Linked DNA regions of Homo sapiens. The protein of the gene in region 2 binds, or shares a complex with, the protein of the main gene of each other region. Each region holds a gene or a part of one and is shown on either strand. Other genes may lie near its edges.

What was found.
Region 1: POLR3G (region 2) and CRCP share a complex: the UniProt entries of both Homo sapiens proteins name them as parts of the RNA polymerase III complex.
Region 3: POLR3G (region 2) and POLR3C share a complex: the UniProt entries of both Homo sapiens proteins name them as parts of the RNA polymerase III complex.

Annotation. Positions count from the first base shown.
Region 1 is NC_000007.14:66,110,883-66,117,865, reverse strand, and holds the start of CRCP (DNA-directed RNA polymerase III subunit RPC9), read right to left. Parts: upstream 2,952-6,983; 5' UTR 2,904-2,951; coding exon 2,896-2,903; intron 1-2,895. UniProt on the Homo sapiens protein: DNA-dependent RNA polymerase catalyzes the transcription of DNA into RNA using the four ribonucleoside triphosphates as substrates.
Region 2 is NC_000005.10:90,491,812-90,498,922, forward strand, and holds part of POLR3G (DNA-directed RNA polymerase III subunit RPC7), read left to right. Parts: intron 1-3,865; coding exon 3,866-3,922; intron 3,923-5,844; coding exon 5,845-5,895; coding exon of another isoform or gene 5,896-5,924; intron 5,925-7,111. UniProt on the Homo sapiens protein: DNA-dependent RNA polymerase catalyzes the transcription of DNA into RNA using the four ribonucleoside triphosphates as substrates.
Region 3 is NC_000001.11:145,834,180-145,841,290, reverse strand, and holds part of POLR3C (DNA-directed RNA polymerase III subunit RPC3), read right to left. Parts: intron 4,798-7,111; coding exon 4,717-4,797; intron 4,477-4,716; coding exon 4,425-4,476; intron 4,274-4,424; coding exon of another isoform or gene 4,271-4,273; exon of another isoform or gene 3,800-4,270; intron 3,756-3,799; coding exon 3,695-3,755; intron 3,236-3,694; coding exon 3,085-3,235; intron 1,402-3,084; coding exon 1,300-1,401; intron 1,176-1,299; coding exon 1,126-1,175; intron 370-1,125; coding exon 220-369; intron 1-219. UniProt on the Homo sapiens protein: DNA-dependent RNA polymerase catalyzes the transcription of DNA into RNA using the four ribonucleoside triphosphates as substrates.

The DNA.
Region 1 (6,983 bases), on a different chromosome or scaffold from region 2:
ACCTGTCAGTGGAAAGTGTGTGTCTGGGAGGTTGGGAGAGTGGCAAGTGGTAAGGCTGGGGAGTAGGTGAGGTTTTACAGGGTCTTGCAGGTCCTGGTAAGAGATGGAGATTTTCTCTAAGTACAATGGAAAGTCAATGAAGGGTTTTACCCAGGAGCGACATGTTCCAATCATTACTTAAGATCACTCCAGTTGCCATGTGGAGAACAGAATGGAGGCTGGGGAAGAGTGAACACTCAAAGGCTATTGCTTAATCCAGCCCAGAGGTGATGGACTACAAAGCTAACATTGGAGATGGTGAAAAGTAACTGCATTCAAAATATATTCTAGGGTGGAAACAACAGGACCACTGATGGACTGGATTTAGGGAGTGAAGAGAGAGGGCTAGATTTTTGGTCTATGCAATTGGATAGATGATGAGAAGAAGGTTAGAAACATACCTTTGAGAACCATCAGCACATAGATGGGTGAAATGACAGAGTGTGGAGAGAAAGGGTCCCAGGACTGAGCCCTAAGATACCACTCAACACTTAGACATCAAGCAAGAGAGGAACGGGACCCAGGGAAGGACACTGAAGTAGTCCTTGATGTAGGAGGAAATACGCAAAGGAACATACATCACAAGAAAAGGAAAGTTTCTAGAGTTTCTGTATTAACCACTGCTGAGAGATCAAGAAAGTTGAGGCCAGAAAATCAACCTCTGAATTTGACAAGATGGAGGGATCAGGTTTTTTTTTTTTTTTTTTTTGAGACAGTCTTGCCCTGTCACCTAGGCTGGAGTGCAGTGGCACAATTTGGTTCACTGCAACCCCTGCCTCCCGAGTTCAAGCGATTCTCCTGCCTCAGCCTCCTGAGTTACTGGGATTACAGGCGCCCACCACTACACCCAGTTAATTTTTGTATTTTTAGTAGAGAGGAGGTTATGCCATGTTGGCCAGGCTGGTCTCAAACTCCTGACCTCAGGGGATTCGCCCACTTCGGCCTCCTAAAGTGCTGCGATTATAGGCATGAGCCACCACGCCCCGCTGGTTCAGGTAATCTTAACAGTCATTCCCGTAGACCAGTGAGGATGAAAGCCCAACAGAATGGCTGAGAGAATGAGGGGCTAATCAGCACTTTCAAGAAGTTTTGTTGGGATGGGAAGCAGAAATGGAGTAAGAGGGGGACATGTATGTGGGGACGGAGGATTTTCTAAGATGAATTCTCTAAAGCAGGGTTGTATGCTCACAGGAAATGCTCTAGTAAAGAGGGAAAAATTAGTAATGATGGCTTGGACTAGAGTAAATTATATGAATAGTTTTTTAGGTTGCAGATGAAATCCCATCAGTGGGTTGCAAAATTAATTCAGTGGTTCAATTTTTTTTTTTTTTTTTTTTTAAGACAGAGCCTTACACTGTCACTCTGGCAGGAGTGTAGTGGCTCTATCTCAGCTCATTGCAGCCTCCTGGGATCAAGTGATCCTCCCATCTCAGCCTCGTAAGTAGCTGAGACTACAGGCATGAACCACCACACCCAGCTAACTTCTTAATTTTTTGCAGAGACAGGGTCTCCCTATGTTGCCCAGGCTGGTCTCCACCTCCCAGGTTCAAGTGATCCTTCTGCCTAAGCTTCCCAAAGTGCTGGGATTGCTGGTGTGAGCCACCACGGTTGGCCCCATTCATATTAATAAAAAATAGACAATATGAGAGTGTACGCCACACATTATTGTTTCATGAGCCTTTCATTTCAGTTACACAGACATATTGTGTTTAAAAAAAAATCGGAAGAGGCCAGGTGAAGTGGCTCACGCCTGCAATCCCAGGACTTTGGGAGTACAAAGCAGGAGGATCACTTGAGCTCAGGAGCTGGAGACCAGCCTGGGCTGTAGTGAGACCCTGCATCTACAAAACTTTTTTTAAAAAATTAGCGGTGAGTGATGGCGTGGGCCTGTAGTCCCAGCTACTGAAGAGGCTGAAGCAGGATTGCTTGAGTCCAGAAAGTGAGGCTGCAGTGAACCATGATTACACCCCGCCTGGGGGACAGAGCAAGACCCTGTTTCTTAAGAAAAAACAATTAATTAAAAATGTAAAAATGTGAAATGCCATAGTACATATAACCATTAAACATGAGGCAAAAGAACATAAAGGAAACTGTATCAAATAATCAGTTCAAAGAGAACACAAGATAGTAATACCTACAAATTAATATCAACCGTATAAAGCCCACATTCAGAGTAGATGCAAAATCTTCCATTTGCACCAGGCGCAACGAGCAAGCATGGAAAAGACCACGTGGAGTTAAACTGTCAGAAAATCTTTTACCCTCGCCTTGCACACACACCCACACACCCCCTGCTGTTTCTCTGGTCCCAGTCCTGGTTCACGTCCTTCCCTTCTCCACCCCAAAACCAGCCCCTTCCCTCACAGTGTTTACTGCTCCCATCAAATTCCGAGGGCAGCTCTTCCGAGGGCTCTCCAGGGGCCTACAGCTGCAAGCAGAGCTCTACCCGGCCCTGATTCGTCTCTCCTCCACCTACTTTCAGGGCGGACAGACTCAGGCCTTTATAGCCTTCTAAGTCCGGGGTCGGATACCAGACTGGGCTCCACCCCCGCACTGTGACCCAGAAACGCTGGTAAACGAATGAGAGAAGGAGGGGGCACATTGAAAGGCAGCCGGACACGGAAGTGCTCGGCCCCGCACCAGACACGGCGTGGAGGGGAAGCGAAGGTTCGGAAGGGCAAAGCGAGAGTCCCGTTCGTCCCCGTCACCACCCCGCGGCCCTCCCGGACAGGGCCGGCCCGCTGCCCTCACTCCCGTACGAGGGTCGCCCAGTCCCCACGGCTCTCGGCTCTCAGCTCTCAGCGGTCAAACCGTTGGGCTCCTCGGGCGAAAAGGGACGCGCCCGAGAAGACTTACACTTCCATGACGTCCCGCCTCGTCGCCCCTAGCTGCCAGCAGACAAAGAACCTCACACTTCACAGCTGTCTCCGCCGCCACCAACAGCGCCAAGGTGCCAGCTCCGCGCGCCAAGGTGCTCGCCGGGATCGCCGCGCTGCATGCCGGGAGCTTGGCGGACCCGGAACCTCGCGCTGCGCGTTCCCCTTTTTCGGGGGGCAGGGTGGGGGAGTGTCCCTGCATCCTTCCACCAGGCCGATTTAAGACTGCTAAGCGTTTGCGGACAGGATTATCTTGTGTTTTCTTTTCTTTTTTTCTTTAACCTTTTTTTTTTTTTGAGACGGAGTCTCGCTCTGTCGCCCAGGCTGGATCTCGGCTTACTGCAACCTCCGCCTCCTGGGTTCAAGCGATTCTCCTTCTGCCTCAGCCTCCCAAGTAGCTGGGACTACAGGCGCTTGCCACCAAGCCCGGCTAATTTTTTGTGTTTTTAGTAGAGACGGGGTTTCACCGTGTTAGCCAGGATGGTTTCAATCTCCTGACCTCGTGATCCGCCCGCCTCGGCCTCCCAAAGTCCTGGGATTACAGGCGTGAGGCACCGTGCCCAGCCTCTTTTTTTCTTTTTTGAGACAGAGTCTCGCTCTGTCACCCAGGCTGGAGTGCAGTGGCACGATCTCGGCTCACTGCAATCTCTGCCTCCCAGGTTCAAGCAATTCCCTGCCTCAGCCTCCCGAGTAGCTGGGATTACAGGCGCCCGCCATAACGCCTAGCTAATTTGTGTATTTTTTAGTAGAGACGGGGTTTCATCATCTTGGCCAGGCTAGTCTTGAACTCCTGACCTCGTGATCCACCCGCTTCGGCCTCCCAAAGTGTTGGGATTACAGGCGTGAGCCACCTCGCCGGGCTCTGTCTGTTTTCGTGGTCTAGGTTTTAACAAAGTATTAATCAGCTGAAGTTGTGAGACGTGATCGGGTTAGTGGGCCTTTGCATGTTAAAATCCCACCTCTCAGAGAGTAGTGAGGCTGGTGGCATCTGGGCTGCCAGAAACATTGCAGTTTATTTATTTATTTTTTAAGAGACAGGGTCTTGCTCTGTCGCCCAGGCTGGAATGCAGTGGTGCAATCAGAGCTCACTGCAGCCTTGAACTCCTGGGCTCAAGCAATCCTCCCACCCCAGCCTGCCAGAGTAGCTGGGACCACAGGTGCGCTCCGCTACACCTGGCTAATTTTCTTTTTTTCTTTTTCTTTTTCTTTTTTTTTTTTTTTGAGATCAGTCTCACTCTGTTGCCCAGGCTGGAGTGCAGTGTCGTGATCTCGGCTCATTGCAACCTCTGCCTCCTGGATTCAAGCAGTTCCCTGCCTCAGCCTCCCCAGTAGCTAGGATTACAGGTGCCCGCCATAATGCCCAGCTAATTTTTGTATTTTTTTAGTAGAGACGGGGTTTCACCATCTTGGCCAAGCTGGTCTTGAACTCCTGACCTTGTGATCCACCCTCATCAGCCTCCCAAAGTGTTGGGATTACAGGCGTGAGCCACTGCACCCAGCCACCTGGCTAATTTTCTAAAATAAAATTCTTTATTGTCCAAAGAGTCAGCTACAAAATTTTTTAATTTTTTTGTAGAGATGGGGGTCTCACTGTGTTGCCCAGGCTGGTCTTGAACTCCTCGCCTCAAGTGATCCTCCCACCTCCAACTCCCAAAGTGCTGGGATTACAGGTGTGAACCACCACAATAGCCTCTGTTGCCTACTTTGTAAATAATAAGGGTGTTAAATAATCCTTATAAAGTTCCTGGCACTTTATTAATTACTGTGGCAATACAACCATGACTCTCTATGAGGTACATTGCATTATTATTGACATTTTATAATTGAAGAAACTGAGGCAGACTTGGAGAGATTATGATTTACCAAAAGTCACTCATCTAGGAAGTTGTCCAGTGGGTATTGAACCCCAGCCAATCTGAACATATACAACAGATGCATTAACTAGAGACTGATGAGTGGATGAATAAAATGTGCTACATTTGTGCAATGGAAAACTACTTAAAAAGGAGGCTGGCCGGGCACGGTGGCTCACGCCTGTAATCCCAGCACTTTGGGAGGCCGAGGCGGGCAGATCACGATGTCAGGAGATCGAGACCATCCTGGCTAACAGGGTGAAACCCCGTCTCTACTAAAAATACAAAAAAAATTAGCCGGGCGTGGTGGTGGGCGCCTGTAGTCCCAGCTACTAGGGAGGCTGAGGCAGGAGAATGGCGTGAACCCAGAAGGCAGAGCTTGCAGTGAGCCAAGATCGTGCCACTGCACTCCAGCCTGGAAGACAGGGCAAGACTCTGTCTCAAAAATATAAAAATAAAAAGGAGGCCAGGCTTGATCTCAGCACTTTGGGGAGCAGAGGCAGGAGGATTTCTTGAGACAAGGAGTTCCAGAGCAGCCTGGGCAACATAGCTAGACCCCCTAACTACGAAAAGTTAGCCAGGTGTGGTGGTGAGCACCTCTAGTCCCAGCTACTGGGGAGGCTGAGGTAGGAGAATCGCTTGAGCCAGAAGGTAGAGGCTGCAGGGAACTATGATCACACCACTGCACTCCAGCCTACAGAGTGAGAGACCTTGTTGCAAAAAATATATATAGACAGACTGATAGATAAATGCTGCAAGATGGATAACCTCCCAAAACATGATGCTATTAATAAGTGAAAGAAGCCAGACACAAAATAATATATATTGCCTGGCCAGGTGGCTCACGCCTGTAATCCCAGCACTTTGGGTGGCTGAGGTGGGTGGATCATCTGAGATCAGGAGTTCAAGACCAGCCTGGCTAACATGGGGAAACCCTGTCTCTACCGAAAATACAAAAATCGCCAGGCGTGGTGGCTCACGCCTGTAATCCCAGCACTTTAGGAGACTGAGGCAGGCAGATCATGAGGTCAGTAGTTCGAGACCAGCCTAGCCAACATGGTGAAACCCCGTCTCTACTAAAAATACAAAAAGTAGCTGGGTGTGGTGGGGGGCACCTGTAATCCCAGCTACTCGGGAGACTGAGGCAGGAAAATTGCTTGAACCCAGGAGGCGGAGGTTGCAGTGAGCCGAGATCACGCCACTGCACTCCAGCCTGGGTGACAGAATGAGACTCCTTCTAGAAAAAAAAAAAAAAGAATACATATGGTATGATTCACTTTATATAGAATGTCCAAGAAGAGGCCAATCTATGGATACAGACAGAAGGCTAGGTTGGGGGCAAGGATGGGAAGTGATTGCTAATAAGTAGGGAGTTTCTCTTTGGGAAACAGAAATTGTCTAAAATTATTATAGATGGTGGTGGTGGTTGCACAACCCTGTGAATATACTGAAGACACTGAGTTGTATACTTTAAATGGCATATTGTACAGCATATTAATCCTATATTAATAAAGCTGTTAAACATTTTTTACTCTGCTGAGTGTGGTGGTCCACACCTGTAATCCCAGCACTTTGGAAGATGAAGGCAGGTGGATCGCTTGAGCCCAGTTTGAGACCAGCATGGGCAACATGGTGAAACCTCATCTTTACCAAAAAAATAGAAATTAACCAGCTTGATGGCTCGTGCCTGTAATCGTAGCTACTCAGGAGGCTGAGGCAGGAGCATCGTCTGAATCTGGGAGGCGGAGGTTGCAGATCACGCCACTGCACTCCAGCCTGGGTGACAGAGCAAGACTCCATCGCAAAATAACGACAACAAAAAAGTCATAAAATGCCACCCAGACCCAGCTGGCCTAGTTAGTGTGGAGAATTCCCTGTACCTTCGCTGAGGAGATTGGGCCCCACAAAGAAATGCTAAAGATGCCCCTTGTGTTATTCACTCAACAAGTATGTAGCCATGGCCCATCGGGGGCTGATGATACAAATGTGACTAACACACACCCTCTGCACTGGCTAGCTGACAGCCTAGTTGAGGAACCAGCTCTGGACATAAATAACCACAATGCATTGTGTTTCGACGCGATGGGCAGGGGAGGGAATGACTAATGAGGTGGAGAGGCGTCCCAAAGCCACGGGCCTTTGAAGTGGGTGAGGGAAAAGCACACGAGGCCGAGGGATTGGGTATGGGCTTCAGTGAAAAACAGCAGTGCCTCTG
Region 2 (7,111 bases):
AAAAGAATAAATTTAAAAAATGGGAGAATGATGAAATTGACTGTGCAATTCAAATAAATTATCACTATTATGTCATCATATAGTTTTCCTATGGTGTTGTCCAAAGCATTACATCTGTTTTTTAAGAAGTTATAAAGTCTTCAGAGACTCTTATGTTTGTAGTTGCTCTGTTTTAATTTTCATTTAATACAATTGAAAATTTCAAAAATTTTTAATTTTTTGCTCATAATGTCTAAAATTGACAGAAAAACATGTTCCACAATTCTTAGACGAATCAGAAGTCAAATGCAAAGAGATAGATAGCTCTCTGGATGCTCATGATGATGATGAAATTGATTGTATAAGCAAAATCTCAGACTGTGAGTCTTCAGATGACAGTGTCTTCAATGAATTTTCTCAAATTCAAGAATCAATGAGTAAACACTGTATCTCCAAGAATTAAAAAGGAATTATGGTGGCCTTCTACAGTCAATCTTTGAAAAAGAACTCATCATGTAATACTTTGTAACAAAAACCTGGAACATCCTGTTTGCTAAAATGAGACGATCATTTTTGTTCTATGATATTTGTGCACCAAAATTAATTTGATGTGTTTTGTAACTGACAAATGCTGAACATAAAGGCAAAGACAACAATGATTGAAAGGAAATTGATTATATAGACATGAAATTGTTTTCTGGATTGATTGTGTTAACTGGTGATTATAAATTTAATAATGAAAATATTTTGCAAGTATAGAGCAAAGAAGATGGCTGGGCCATCCTCTCTTCAATAGAAGTATGAGACATCAGCCGGGCGCAGTGGCTCACCCCTGTAATCCCAGCACTTTGGGAGTCTGAGGCAGGTGGATCACGAGGTCAGGAGATCAAGACCATCCTGGCTAACATGGTGAAACCCCGTCTCTACTAAAAATACAAAAAATTAGCCAGGCGTGGTAGAGGGCACCTGTACTCCCAGCTACTCGGGAGACTGAGGCAGGAGAGTGGAGTCAACCTGGGAGTGAGCCGAGATTGTGCCACTGCACTCCAGCCTGGGCAAGACTCCGCCTCAAAAAAAAAAAAAAAAAGTATGAGACATCAAAGTTTTTTAAAGTATTGCATTTTGGATATGTAAGTACAAGAAGAAGAATTGGAAGTAGTGATAAGCTAGATTCTACTAGAAATGCATTTATAATCTGAAATTATTTAGATGATACACATATGAGAAAACCAGAGGAAATTATAAGTTAGAACCTATTAAAGATGTCTTTGGAATCTGGGATCAGGACGTACAGAAGGCATATATTCTAGGTTTGTATGTGGCAGCCGATGCACAGAAAACTGCATTCAAATGACTTTGCCCATTTTGGTTAAATTTACCTTCAAAATCAGTAAAACATGTAATATAAATTTGGATTTGCTATACTTAATTGCTTAGTAAAATCTCCAATAACTTTATTTATTTATTTTTATTTGAGACAGGATCTCGTTCTGTCACCCAGGCTGGAATGCAGTGGCATAATCTCAGCTCACTGCAGCCTCCACCTCCCAGGCTCAAGTGATCCTCCCACCGTAGCCTCCCAAGTAGCTGGAACCACTGGCATGAGCTACCATGCCCAGCTAATTTTTGCATTTTTTGTAGAGATGGGGGTTTCACCATGTTGCTCAGGCTGGTCTCGAACTCCTGGACTCAAGGGATCCAGCTGCCTTGGCCTCCCAAAGTGCTGGGATTACATCCTGAGCCACTGTGTTGGGCCTAGTTTTATTGATTTTTAAGTAACAGCTTTACTGAGACATAATCCACTATATAAAATTTACTTTTTAAAGTGTACAATTCAGTGACTTTTAATATAGCCACAGAGTTGTGCAATCAACACCACTATTTAATTTTTTTTTTTTTTTTTTTTTTTTTTTTTTTTTTTTTTTTTTTTTTTTGAGACAAGAGTCTTGCTCTGTTACCCAGGCTGGAATGCAGTGGCATTATCTCAGTTCACTGCAACCTCCACCTCCTGGATTCAAGTGATTCTCTTGCCGCAGTCTCCCAAGTAGCTGGGATTACAGGCACGTGCCACCACACATGGCTAATTTTTTTGTGTTTTTAGTATAGATGGGGTTTCACCATGTTGGCCCGGCTGGTCTTGAACTCCTGACCTATTAGCAATCTACCTGCCCCAGCCTCTCAAAGTGCTGGGATTACAGGTGTGAGCCACTGTGCCCAGCCACTATCTAATTTTTTAGATGCTTTTCATCATCTAGAAAAGAAATTCTGTACCCTTTAGTAGTCATTCCCTACTCTCCCTCCTTCCAACCCATGGCACCAGAAATCTGCTTTCTGTCTCTAGAGATTCCATGTCATATAAATGGAATGATGTAACATGTGTCTTTGGCTTCTTTCACTTGCCATAATGTTTTCAAGGTTCATTCATGGCTTAGTACATATGAGTGCTTCATTCCTTTTTATGGCTGAATAATATTCCACTGTATGGATATATGCCACATTTTGTTTATCCACTCATCACTTGATGGGCATTTGGGTCAGTTCACTTTTGGGATTACATGAGTTATCTTGTCATAAACATTCATGTACATGTTTTATGTGAAGACATGTTTTCATTTATATTGGGTATATACATAGGATCATATGGTAACTCTGTATTTCACATTTTGAGGAACTGCCAAACAGTTTTCTAAAGTGGCCACCCGATTTTACATTCCCATCAATAATGTATGAGAGTTCCAATTTTTCCATATCCTTGCCAACATTTCTTATTTTTTTTTTATTCTAGCCATCCTAGTGGTTGTAACACAGTATCTCATTGTGGTTTTGATTTGAATTTCCGTAATGATTGGTGATGTTGGACATCTTTTCATGCTTTTTGTCCATTTTTGTATCTTCTTTAGAGAATTGTCTATTCAAATCCTTTACCTCTTTTTAATTGGGTTCCAATAATTGGTTTTCAATATCTGTTCTTTTATCTGTTATCTTTTTTATTTATTCTCTGTATTTCATTATTTGAAATTAACTTAAAAATATTTTAAAATATAAAAAGTGGTCTACTGTACCCAGAGAAAAAGGGTAAAAACTGTTTTTTTCCGGTATACTGAGGGTTAAAATTATTTAAAATATGGAAACTGTTTTGGAGAAAATTCTTAAAAAGAAGTCATTGTGTTACAAATTCTAGGAATCTCTCATTTGTGCTGACTTCGTTTTATAGATTAAAAACTTGGCAAGATTAGTTAAAACATTTTACCTGAAGTCAAACAGTTAAAATACCTAGAAAAACCTGATCTCTTGGTCTCTGATCTACTACTTATTTTGGTTATCTTTCTCTAATACGTGGTTGTATTATTTGGAAGCATATACTTGACATAGAAGAAAAATCAGTATATATTTGGTCCTTGATTTTTATCCATTCATCTTTAGTATTACCTTCCCTTTTTCATGCCTAACTCCTGAACTACTTTTTATGATGAACATGGCTTCAAGCTTTTGTGTGATAGTGTTGCTTTCCAACTTGTGCTGCTGGAAAAGAGTTTGTGCCCTCCTTAAGGGTGTTTCTTGTGATAAGGTGGACTAGTCTGAATCAAGAGCCGCAGTTATGGCTTTACTGGTTTTGGCAAGCTCAGAGGGTTCCTGCAGAGTTTTCAGCAATTGGCATGTAGGGCTTGCAGCTTGCTCATTTATGCCTCAGATCAGTAACCCCTCACCAAGTCCATCCTTGCCTACCCCTACCCTTTTTCCCATTCTCTTATGTACAAAGGTGGGAAACTCCCTGTATGTAAAATTAAAAATGTTGTCTGTTGTTTTCAATAATCTTAAAGGAATGGCTTAAGTTCAGGGTTACTGTTGATTTTCCTAATGAGTTCTTTATTCTTTTTTCCCCTAGATATTGAAAGGTATAGTAAAAGATACATGAAGGTATACAAGGAAGAATGGATACCAGGTAACTACAAAACACACAATATGAAAACAGTTTTTAAAGGCTGTCTCTCTCACCTCATGTTTTTTTTTTAGAATAAGTTTTCTATTTTTACCATAGGAAAACTGAGTCTGGTTCTTTTATTGTGATTAATTAGTAATCTGTTAGAAACTAAGGTGAAAAGATTTTTATGCTAAAACAAGGAAGAGTTGAAGTGCTTTTGTGGAAGTTCTTAAAATATATATATATGTATATTTTATTTTATTTTATTTATTTTTTTGAGATGGAGTCTTGCTCTGTCGCCCAGGCTGGAGTGCAGTGGCACGATATCGGCTCATTGCAAGCTCCACCTCCAGGGATCATGCCATTCTCCTGCCTCAGCCTCCCGAGTAGCTGGGACTACAGGCCCCCGCCACCATGCCCAGCTAATTTTTTGTATTTTTAGTAGAGACGGAGTTTCACCGTGTTCGCCAGAATGGTCTTGATCTGACCTCATGATCCGCCCGCCTCAGCCTCCCAAAGTGCTGGGATTACAGGCATGAGCCAACACCCCCCACCCTTAATATACATTTTTTACAAAAATAGGACAGGCCAAACAAACCCTTTGAATTTTCCAATTTAATTAGCCACAATCACAATTTTAATTTGTAATACCAGAAAGCACAAATACTATGCTCCTGAGCAATTTTAGAGCATTTGAAGAGAAAGCAAAAATCTCGTTTTAAAGATATTTTAAGCCAAGCTCATGGATCTTCCTTTCTTTTAAGCAGACATAGACTAGTTTTAGTTGTTAGGCTTCTTCAAAAGAACCATATCCAAAAAGAAGCTTTACCTTGGGTATGGACAAGTTAGAAGGGTCTGTAAAGGAGATCTCATCCCACTCATTCATTTTGCAAATAAAAACAGTTGTCATAGAAATAAAGTGACCTGTCAGGCCATGTGGCCAATACTGTTAGAACCCAGGTCTTCTCATTTTAATTCACATTCTTTTTATGTCTCTGTCCTTGGTCTTTTATGGAAACTCCCCTTATGTAAAAACATAGATGGCATTAACAGCCTTATCATTTTCACAGATTATAGTACTATCTTTTCAGTGTTGGTAAGGTTGGGGCACCCTGGAAACAACTTAGGTCTCTCATTTCTTCCGTTTCATTAGTATTCATCTCTCAAATGATTCTCTACATATTCCGTCATGATCTAAAATGAATAGCTTATAAAAACTAAAATATATTCAAAGCAAAATTTATTTTTCAGGTAAAATGACTTGAGATTTAAATGCTTTGTAAAAATGCTCCAAATTTTCTTTAAAAGCAGGCAATATTTTTAAATCAACTTTTATGTTGCTTCCATTTCCTGTTTAACTCTATGCTTAAAAATTAAAAGAAAGTGACACATTAGAGGAATTATTTAGCTAATACAAGCAAAATTATTTATTGGAGGAGATTTGTTTTTGACAGCTATTTATATTTTTAATTTTAAAGTTTTCAGATATTACAATTGTTTATTTCATTTTGCATGTTTTGGGATTATGGTAACATCCTTTTGAAAAAAAAAATTTGTTGCATAAGAAATATATCAACTACAGAATATATCAACTACAGAAAACTTATGAAATATAAAGTGGTCAAATAAATATAAATAATACTTAAGAAAAACTGTCATAATTCCAACACCCACAAATAATTACCATAAGGTTTCCTTCACCAAAAATTTTATAGCACTATTTCAGAGCTATTGTAATAAATTTTCTTTATAGGAGAAAATATATCATTGTCTGTAATATTTGGATTTGGTTTTTATATGTTTCAAGCTAAATTTGTAAAGTCAGATACTAAGGCACTTTATTGTCATTTTCTGGACAACTGTTGTGTCCTTCAAATAGTTATGTTCAATGCCACAAATTCCTAGAGGAAACTGCAATTTTTTATTTTTTATTTTATGTACAGATTGGAGAAGACTTCCAAGAGAGATGATGCCAAGAAATAAATGTAAAAAAGGTACATTGACTAATATAATAGTAATTCAGGTAGGAAAAGGTTATTTCTTACATTCTGTTAATATGGATTTGTCAACCCAAAGTTATACTCACTGTTCTTAATGCTTTTCTTATTTTGAGCCAGACAAGGGATCTCATGCCTGTAATCTCAGCATTTCGGGAGGCTGAGGTGGGAGGATCACTTGAGCCCAGGAGTTTGAGACCAGCCTGGGCAACATAGTGAGAACTTGTCTCTACAAAAAGTTAAAACAAGTATTAGCCAAGTGTGGTGGCATGCACCTGTAGTCCCAGCTACTTGGGGGTCTAAGGTGGGAGGATCACTTGAGCCAAAGAGGCAGAGGCTGCAATTAGCCTAAACTGCACCACTGCACTTAAGCCTGGAAGACAGAGCAAGACCCTGACACTCTGTCTAGGACACTGACTCTCTCCCTCTCTCTGTCCCCCCATGTATGTGTGTGTGTGTGTATATATATGCATTATAACTATTTTGCTAAAGCTTGTTTTTTGTTGTTTGTCTTTTGGGTGTTTTTTTTCTTAGTTGTTGCCTTTTCTTTGTGTATGTCTTATTTTTTAATTTTTAAATGTTTTATCTTTTTTTAAATTTCTGTGTTTATTTTAGATACAGGGGTACATGTGCAGGTTTGTTACATTGGTATATTGCACTCAGGTAGTGAGTGTACTACCTAATAGGTAGTTTGTTAACTCACTCCACCCCGTCCTCCCCTCCCGACTTTAGTAGTTCACTGTGTCTGTTGTTCCCATGTTTATGTCCATGTGTGCTCAGTGTTTAGCGCCCACTTATAAGTGAGAACATGCAATATTTGGTTTTCTGTTCCTGCATTTATTCACTTAGGATTTTCCTTTAGTTATGGAATTGTGGAGCTGCTAAGAAAGACTTTTCAATTATTGTAGACCTTTTCATTTGCATAACTGCAGATTTTTTATTATACTGGCTACATTATAAATTATTAACTAAAACATTTTAAAATTGGGAAACCAATAAAATGGAGCTTTATGTTGTATAGAAGAATGCCAAAGTGAATGTTTACAGTTTGTTTTTCTTTAGTAATTTCATTCAGTAAATAGTTATCTATTATTGCCAGACATTGTGCTGACAGGAATAAAACTGAGCAAAGTGGGAATAATCCTTGTCCTCATGGAGCTTGTAGTCAAATGGGGTAAAATCACTAAAGAAAAACACACTGTCCTCATTGGGA
Region 3 (7,111 bases), on a different chromosome or scaffold from region 2:
TACTTGATGAACAAGAGAGTGTATATGGTGATGGAGAAGAAGCTCAGAACATCTTCAGAATTGCTAGTTTACAAAAATAGGTGGATTAAATTCTGTTAAGTGAGCTGGAGGAGACAGTGAGTTTAGGTTTGCTCATGCTAAGCTGGAGGGTTACAGGAGGTCAAAATGGATTTTCTGGATGGTATTCTGAAATGCAGGTCTGAAGTTTATGATGCTTACTTGTTGACATTACGTTTCAGGGTCTCTAGCTGCTGACGTTCAGGAGCTGTGATCATCTCCTCTATTTCTTGTAACTGTGCTTCCTCTGCACCAGTAGCCTGCATAGATGCAATGATGGCTTCTACCCTCTGAGATTTTTCTAGTAGACGCCTGTCAAACAAACACAACTCTGAGACATCTTCCCTAACCTGGGAGATTCTCTTACCACGTGTGTCTGAGGCACTACCCACCACCCTTTACCATTTTCCTGATCAAAGTAGATAATGTCACCTTCTAAGGACATTTTCTACAAACTTATTTGGAAATATAACTTCACTCCTGAAATTCTTATTGCCTCTCATTTGCACTTAAAAGTTTGGTGCTTTTGTACGTTTCTCACAAATTTAATCTGAAAAATTATTTCACTGGGAGCATGTTAGAAAAGTGTAGACTAATGCATGATTTACACTAATCTAAGCCAATGATTCAATGCAAGTAGACTGGTTGCTATCTCTACTGGTTCCTACTTCTCAAAAAAAAAATTTTTTTTTTTGAGATGGAGTCTCACTTTGTCGCCCAGGCTGGAGTGCAGTGGCGTGATCTTGGTTCACTGCAACCTCCACTCACTGGGTTTAAGTGATTCTCCTGCCTTAGCCTCCCGAGTAGCTGGGACTATAGGTGCCCGCCACCATGCCCAGCTAATTTTTGTATTTTTAGTGAAGACAGGGTTTCACCATGTTGGCCAGGTTGGTCTCAAACTCCTGACCTCAAGTGATCCACCTGCCTCAGCCTCCCGAAGTGCTGGGATTACAGGCATGAGCCACCCTGCCAGGCCCAGCGTCTATTGATTCCTATTTCTAGAGGAAATTTCCCCTGAGGCCCTTGATCTTGAAAGATGTAAATAACTCAACTGAAAATGTTACTTACTTATTCTCTTTGGTTTCAAATTGCCTCCTTTCTATCAAGTTGGCTATGCTCTGAGGAAAGAGAAGACAGACAAGGAATGCACATAGTTCTATTTCAGCAGCTCAGGGCGAAGTGGGCACATGAGGGGTACTTGACCGTATGGAGGAAATGGGGAGAAGGTCCAGATTGAGTTACCTTGTAGCACCTGTGCAACAACATTCGGGCAGCTGACAGGATGTTCACAGTATATAAATAGAAGGTCCTGGATGGGGCATGGTCTGGTGTTTTGGGAATTTCCTATTTGTCCAATAGAAAGAAAAATAGCAGAAATTATACTGTTTTAGAACTGGCAAAGCACACACTCATTCTACCTGGAGTTACTTAGCCCTCCTTTTTACTTACACTTTCCTGTTTCCTAGTCATTCAGTACCTGTGTTTATTTTATTTATTTATTTTGAGACTGGGTCTTGCTCTGTTACCTAGGATGGAGTGCGGTGGCATGATATCAGCTCACTGCAACTTCCACCTCCGGCTCAAGCAATCCTCCCACCTCAGTCCCCCAAGTAGCCGGAACTACAGGCATGCACCACCATGCTCCGCTAATTTTTTAATCTTTTGGGGGTGGTGGAGACATGGTCTCACTATATTTTCCAGGCTGGTCTTGAATTCCTGGGCTCAAGTGATCATCCCGCCTTGGTTTCCCAAAGTGCTGAGAATACAGGTGTGCCCGGCCCAGTCTTTGTGGTTTATGTCATAATCAGTCAAATGGAGAGCTGGGCTTCCCTGTTTTTTCCATTTGACTGTCAGCATCCTGAGCTGGGGAAGAAAGGGAGGGCAACTAACATTTACTGAACAACTCTATGTGCCAGGTAAATTCTATTTGATCTTTACAAAAAGTCGTATTATTATTATTTTTGAGACAGAGTCTTGCTCTGTTGCCCAGGCTGGAGTGCAGTGGCACAATGTTGGCTCACTGCAACCTCTGCCTCCCAGGTTCAAGCAATTCTCCTTCCTCAGCCTCCTGAGTAGCTGGGATTACAGACACACGGCACCACGCCCAGCTAATTTTTGTATTTTTAGTAGAGACAGGGTTTCACCAGGTTGGCCAGGCTATTCTCGAATTCCTGACCTCAAGTGATCCGTCCGCCTAGGCCTCCCAAAGTGCTGGGATTACAGGCATGAGCCACCGCACCTGGCAACCATATTATTTTTATTATCACCATCCATCACTGTTTTATAGATGGGAAACGTGGTAACTTGCTTAATGTAACTGGGTAAGGCAGAGCTGTAATCTGACTCCAAAAATCCATTCTATCTATTTACTCATATGCTCTACTAAATAGCCCTGCAAAGACTCAGTTAGATGTGTTGATAAATTTAAACTATAACAGAATTAAGGCTTAAGGAAGGACAGAAATGAGAAGAGAAAAAAAGGCAGGGTGGGTTTGGGGTGATGTCCTGGCTCTGCCTCTTTTTTGTTTTTTGTTTTTTTTGTTTTTTGAGACAGAGTCTCACTCTGTTGCTCAGGCTAGAGTGCAGTGGCTTGATCTCGGCTCACTGCAACCTCCCCCTCCTGGGTTCAAGAGAGTCTCCTTCCTGCCTCAGCCTCCCGAGCAGCTGGGACTATAGGCGTGTGCCACCAGGCCCAGCTAATTGTTTTGTATTTTATTAGAGACGGAGTTTCACCATGTTGGCCAGGCTGGTCTCGAACTCCTGACCTCAAGTGATTTGCCCACCTTGGCCTCCCAAAGTGCTGGGACTACAGGCGCGAACCACCGTGCCCGGCCACCTCTTTCTCACTAGGGCAGTTAAGGCCCCAAATTATCCTCCAAGTGCTCGCTATGTCTCTGTGAATCATGTTTTTCTGTCTCAGAGCTGGATATAGAGTTTGCTTGGGGGTTCAGTATGTTTGCCTAAGAAGCTTCTCTCACCCTAGGCCAGCTTTGCTGGTTGGCAATTATTACGCCCTTGGTTGGTTACCTGGAGTGACATGAAATTTTCTGAGAGCATCTTATATAGCATATCCTTTGCCTCCTTTGCAGGAATCATTGCAAAGTCTTCCACTTGCTTCTGCTCTATGTGTTTCTTCTGCAAAACTAGACGGAATATTCTAGCACAGCGAGACCCAAATCTGGAAAGGAATGAAGAAAGCAAATGGCATGCTAACATAGATCAGCTTTAGTTCCCAGTCATAGATGGGGTGGTTGTTCTATTCCATGTGTGAAGCCAGTACCAGACAGGAACAGTGATCAGAAAATTATTCTACAGCTCCATAGGTTGGTGATGGTAAGGCATCACCAACTGCTGTTAATCATAAGGCAGTCACCAACTGCTGACTCATTTGAGTGCCACAGTTCCTACATTTGTAAGCAAAGGCTTTAGGGAGGCTGGTTAATTTGCATCGGTAGGAATTAAACAGTAGGTTATTTTAAGGTAAAGAGCAGTATTACATGAGATCCATAGGAGTCCAGTGAAAAAATGGGGAAAAGTATGCCAAGGTGTGGTTATATTGGTGGCTTACATAATGATCAAATTACTTCACTGGGGATAGGAAGTATGTGATCCCAAACCCAACCAGTGTCCCCCTTACCTCTCCTGTACGACGGACTCCAGAGTGGCTGTGGCTAGGGATGCTAATGCCTTATGGAGGTCTTTATGTAGAGAATTAAGGTCACTCAGTAATGTTTTGGCCTAGTTATTGTGATCTGAGTTTTATTCCTAAGTTTCTAATTTATAATTAAATTTTAAATGCTATTTTGTTTTTCATGTTATAATTTATGGTTTCAGTCATGGTACATAAATATTCCAAAACTTTAATACAAGTGTTTAAGTAAGGGTTTTGCTTAACTAAAATTTGGTTGATTAAAAGTCCTTTTTCCTTTTCTTTTTTGAGACAGGGTCACCCAGGTTGGAGTACAGTGGCATGATCTCAGCTTACTGCAACGTCTGTCTCCTGGGCTCTAGCGATCCTCCCACCTCAGCCTCCTGAGGAGCTGGACTACAAGCATGCATCGTTACAGCTGGCTAGTTTTTGTATTTTTGGTAGAGATGGGGTTTTGCCATGTTGCTTAGCTGATCTTGAACTCCTGGGTTCATGCAATTCACCTGCCTCAGCCTCCCAAAGTCCACCATGCCTGGCCTCTTTTTACTTCATCATCAATGCAGTTCACTGAAAATTCATAGAAAAATTTATTTAACAATTACTTCAATTTTCTAATTTATTTAGTATAATAAACATTACCAAATCTTTCTTTCCTAAGGCACCATTCTGATTTATAGGTCAGGCTGCCTGACTCTAAGGAAATAACTGGTAAGGATACTGATGACATACATTCCTCCACCACTGTCGCCAGACTTTCCAACAAACTCTAGCTATTAAGAAAAAGAGAGAGTGTTAACTGAACGGAAAGTCCAGTGATTCTGTTTCCAATGGAACAAATCTGACCAAAAGTCTGCAGCAGGTAGCCCTCCTATCAAATGATGTGGAGAAATTGTCTGGGCTGGCTAGGTAGAGAATAACTCTGCAGGAGGATGACACTAGGTATCAGTGCAGAAATAAATTATCAACAGTACAGGCTAAAGAAAAAAGAAAAAAAGCAAAAACAGACTTACTGGATCATCTGCCAGCAGAGTGAGATACTGATCAAGAACTTGCTTAGAGATGTTATAGCCAACAGGTAGGGATCTGAAGATCTATGGAGCAAAGGACACTTAAAATGGGTTTGGGAACTTAGAACTCCTGACCTTACTGAAATAAAGATGTTTTAGGCCGGGCACAGTGGCTAAGGCCTGTAATCCGAACACTTTGGGAGGCTGAGGCAGGTGGATCACTTTGGGTCAAGAGTTGGAGACCAGCCTGACCAATATGGTGAAACCCCGTCTCTAGTAAAAATACAGAATTAGCTGGACGTGGTGGCGCATGCCTGTAATCCCAGCTATTTGGGAGGCTGAGGCAGGAGAACTGCTTGAACCTGGGAGGCAGAGGTTGCAGTGAGCCGAGATTGCGCCAATGGACTCCAGCCTGGGCTACAAGGGCGAAACTCCGTCTCAAAAAAAAAAAAAAAAAAGTTTTAATTTTAGTTACCACAAAACTGTCCAAAAATATTCACAGCAGGATTGTTTGTAAGAGTAAAAAACTAGAAACACCCAAATGACCAGTACCGAGTACACTAAAATAAAATATAGCACGGCCATTAAGTGGAATATGATACAGTCATTATGAAGAGTGAGACAAATCTACAGAAACTAACATGAAAGGAAGTTTTACATACACTGTCATATAAAAAATCAAGTTATAGAACAGTATGACTAGGTTGGGTGTGGTGGATCACGACTTTGTAATGCCAGCACTTTGAGAGGCTGAGGTGGGAGGATCACTTGATGTCAGGAGTTCGAGACCAGCCTGGCCAACACAGTGAAACCCTGTCTCTACTAAAAATACAAAAATTAGCCTGGCGTGGTGGCATGTGCCTGTGATCTCAGCTACTCGGAAGGATGAGCAGGAGAATGCCTTGAACCCAGGAGGCGGAGGTTGCAGTGAGCTGAGATTGCGCTACTGCACTCCAGCCTGGGTGAAAGAGTACAAGACTCTGTCACAAAAAAACAAAAACAAACAAACAAAACCCAACCAAAAAGCCATATGAATAGTCCCATTTTGGGGTTAAAAAATACATATACCCACATATATGTTAGAGTATGCAAGGTCTGAATAAAGATATATACCAAACTTTTTTTTTTTTTTTGAGACAGAGTCTCACTCTGTTTCCCAGGCTAGAGTGCAGTGGTGCGATCTCAGCTCACTGCAACCTCCCATTCCCGGGTTCAAGCGATTCTCCTGCCTCAGCCTCCCAAGTAGCTGGGATTACAGGCGCCCATCACCATGCCTGGCTAATTTCTGTAATTTTAGTAGAGATGAGGTTTCACCATGTTGGACTATGCTGGTCTTGAACTCCTCAGGTGATCTGCCTGCCTCGGCCACCCAAAGTACTGGGATTACGGGTGTGAGCTGCTGCGTCCGGCCTTTTTTTTTTTTTTTTTTTTTTGAAATAGGGTTTTGCTCTGTTGTTTAAGCTGGAGTGCAGTGGCATGATCATAGTTGACTGCAACCTCAACTCTTGGGCTCAAGCAATCCTCCTGCCTCAGCCTCTCGAATAGCTGTGACTACAGGCATATGGCACCACACCCAACTAATTTTTTAAAAAAATTTTTTGTAGAGACGGGGGTCTTGTCATGTTGCCCAGGTTGGTCTTCAACTCCTGGCCTCAAGGGATCCTTCTGCCTCAACCTCCCAAAGTTCTAGGATTACAAGTGTGAGTCACTGCACCTGGCCATAGAACTTTAAAATAAACAATATAAAAATATAGGAATATTTAAACACAGTCATGCACCATATAACATTTTAGTCAACAACGGACCGTGTGCAGCTGTGGTCCCATATTATACTGGAGCTGAAAAATTCCTACTGCTTTGTGATGTCATAGCTGTTGTAACATCATAGCACAATGCCGTTGTGAAACACATTACTCACATGTGTGGTGAGGCTGGAGTGCAGTGGTATGATCTTGGCTCACTGCAACCTCTGCCTCCTGGGTTCAAGCAATTCTCCTGCCTCAGCCTCCCGAGTAGCTGGGACCACAGGCGCATGCCACCATGCCCGGCTAATTTTTTTTTTTTTTTTTGTATTTTAGTAGATGGGTTTCACCATGTTGCCCAGGCTGGTCTCAAACGCCTGAGCTCAGGCAACCCACCAGCCTGGGCCTCCCAAAGTGCTAGGATTACAGGCGTGAGCCACCCCGCTCAGCCTGTTACTGGTTTTTAATAAATACAGTGTAGCCTGAGCGTGTAGACCATCACATTCACATTAATCTGCCATTCATTCACTAACTCCCACAGGGCAACTTTTAGTCCTGAAAGCTCCATTCATGTTAAGTGCACTAAACAGGTGTGGTTTTTAATTTTTCATACCATATTTTTACTGTACCTTTTCTGTGATTAGATGTTTAGATAC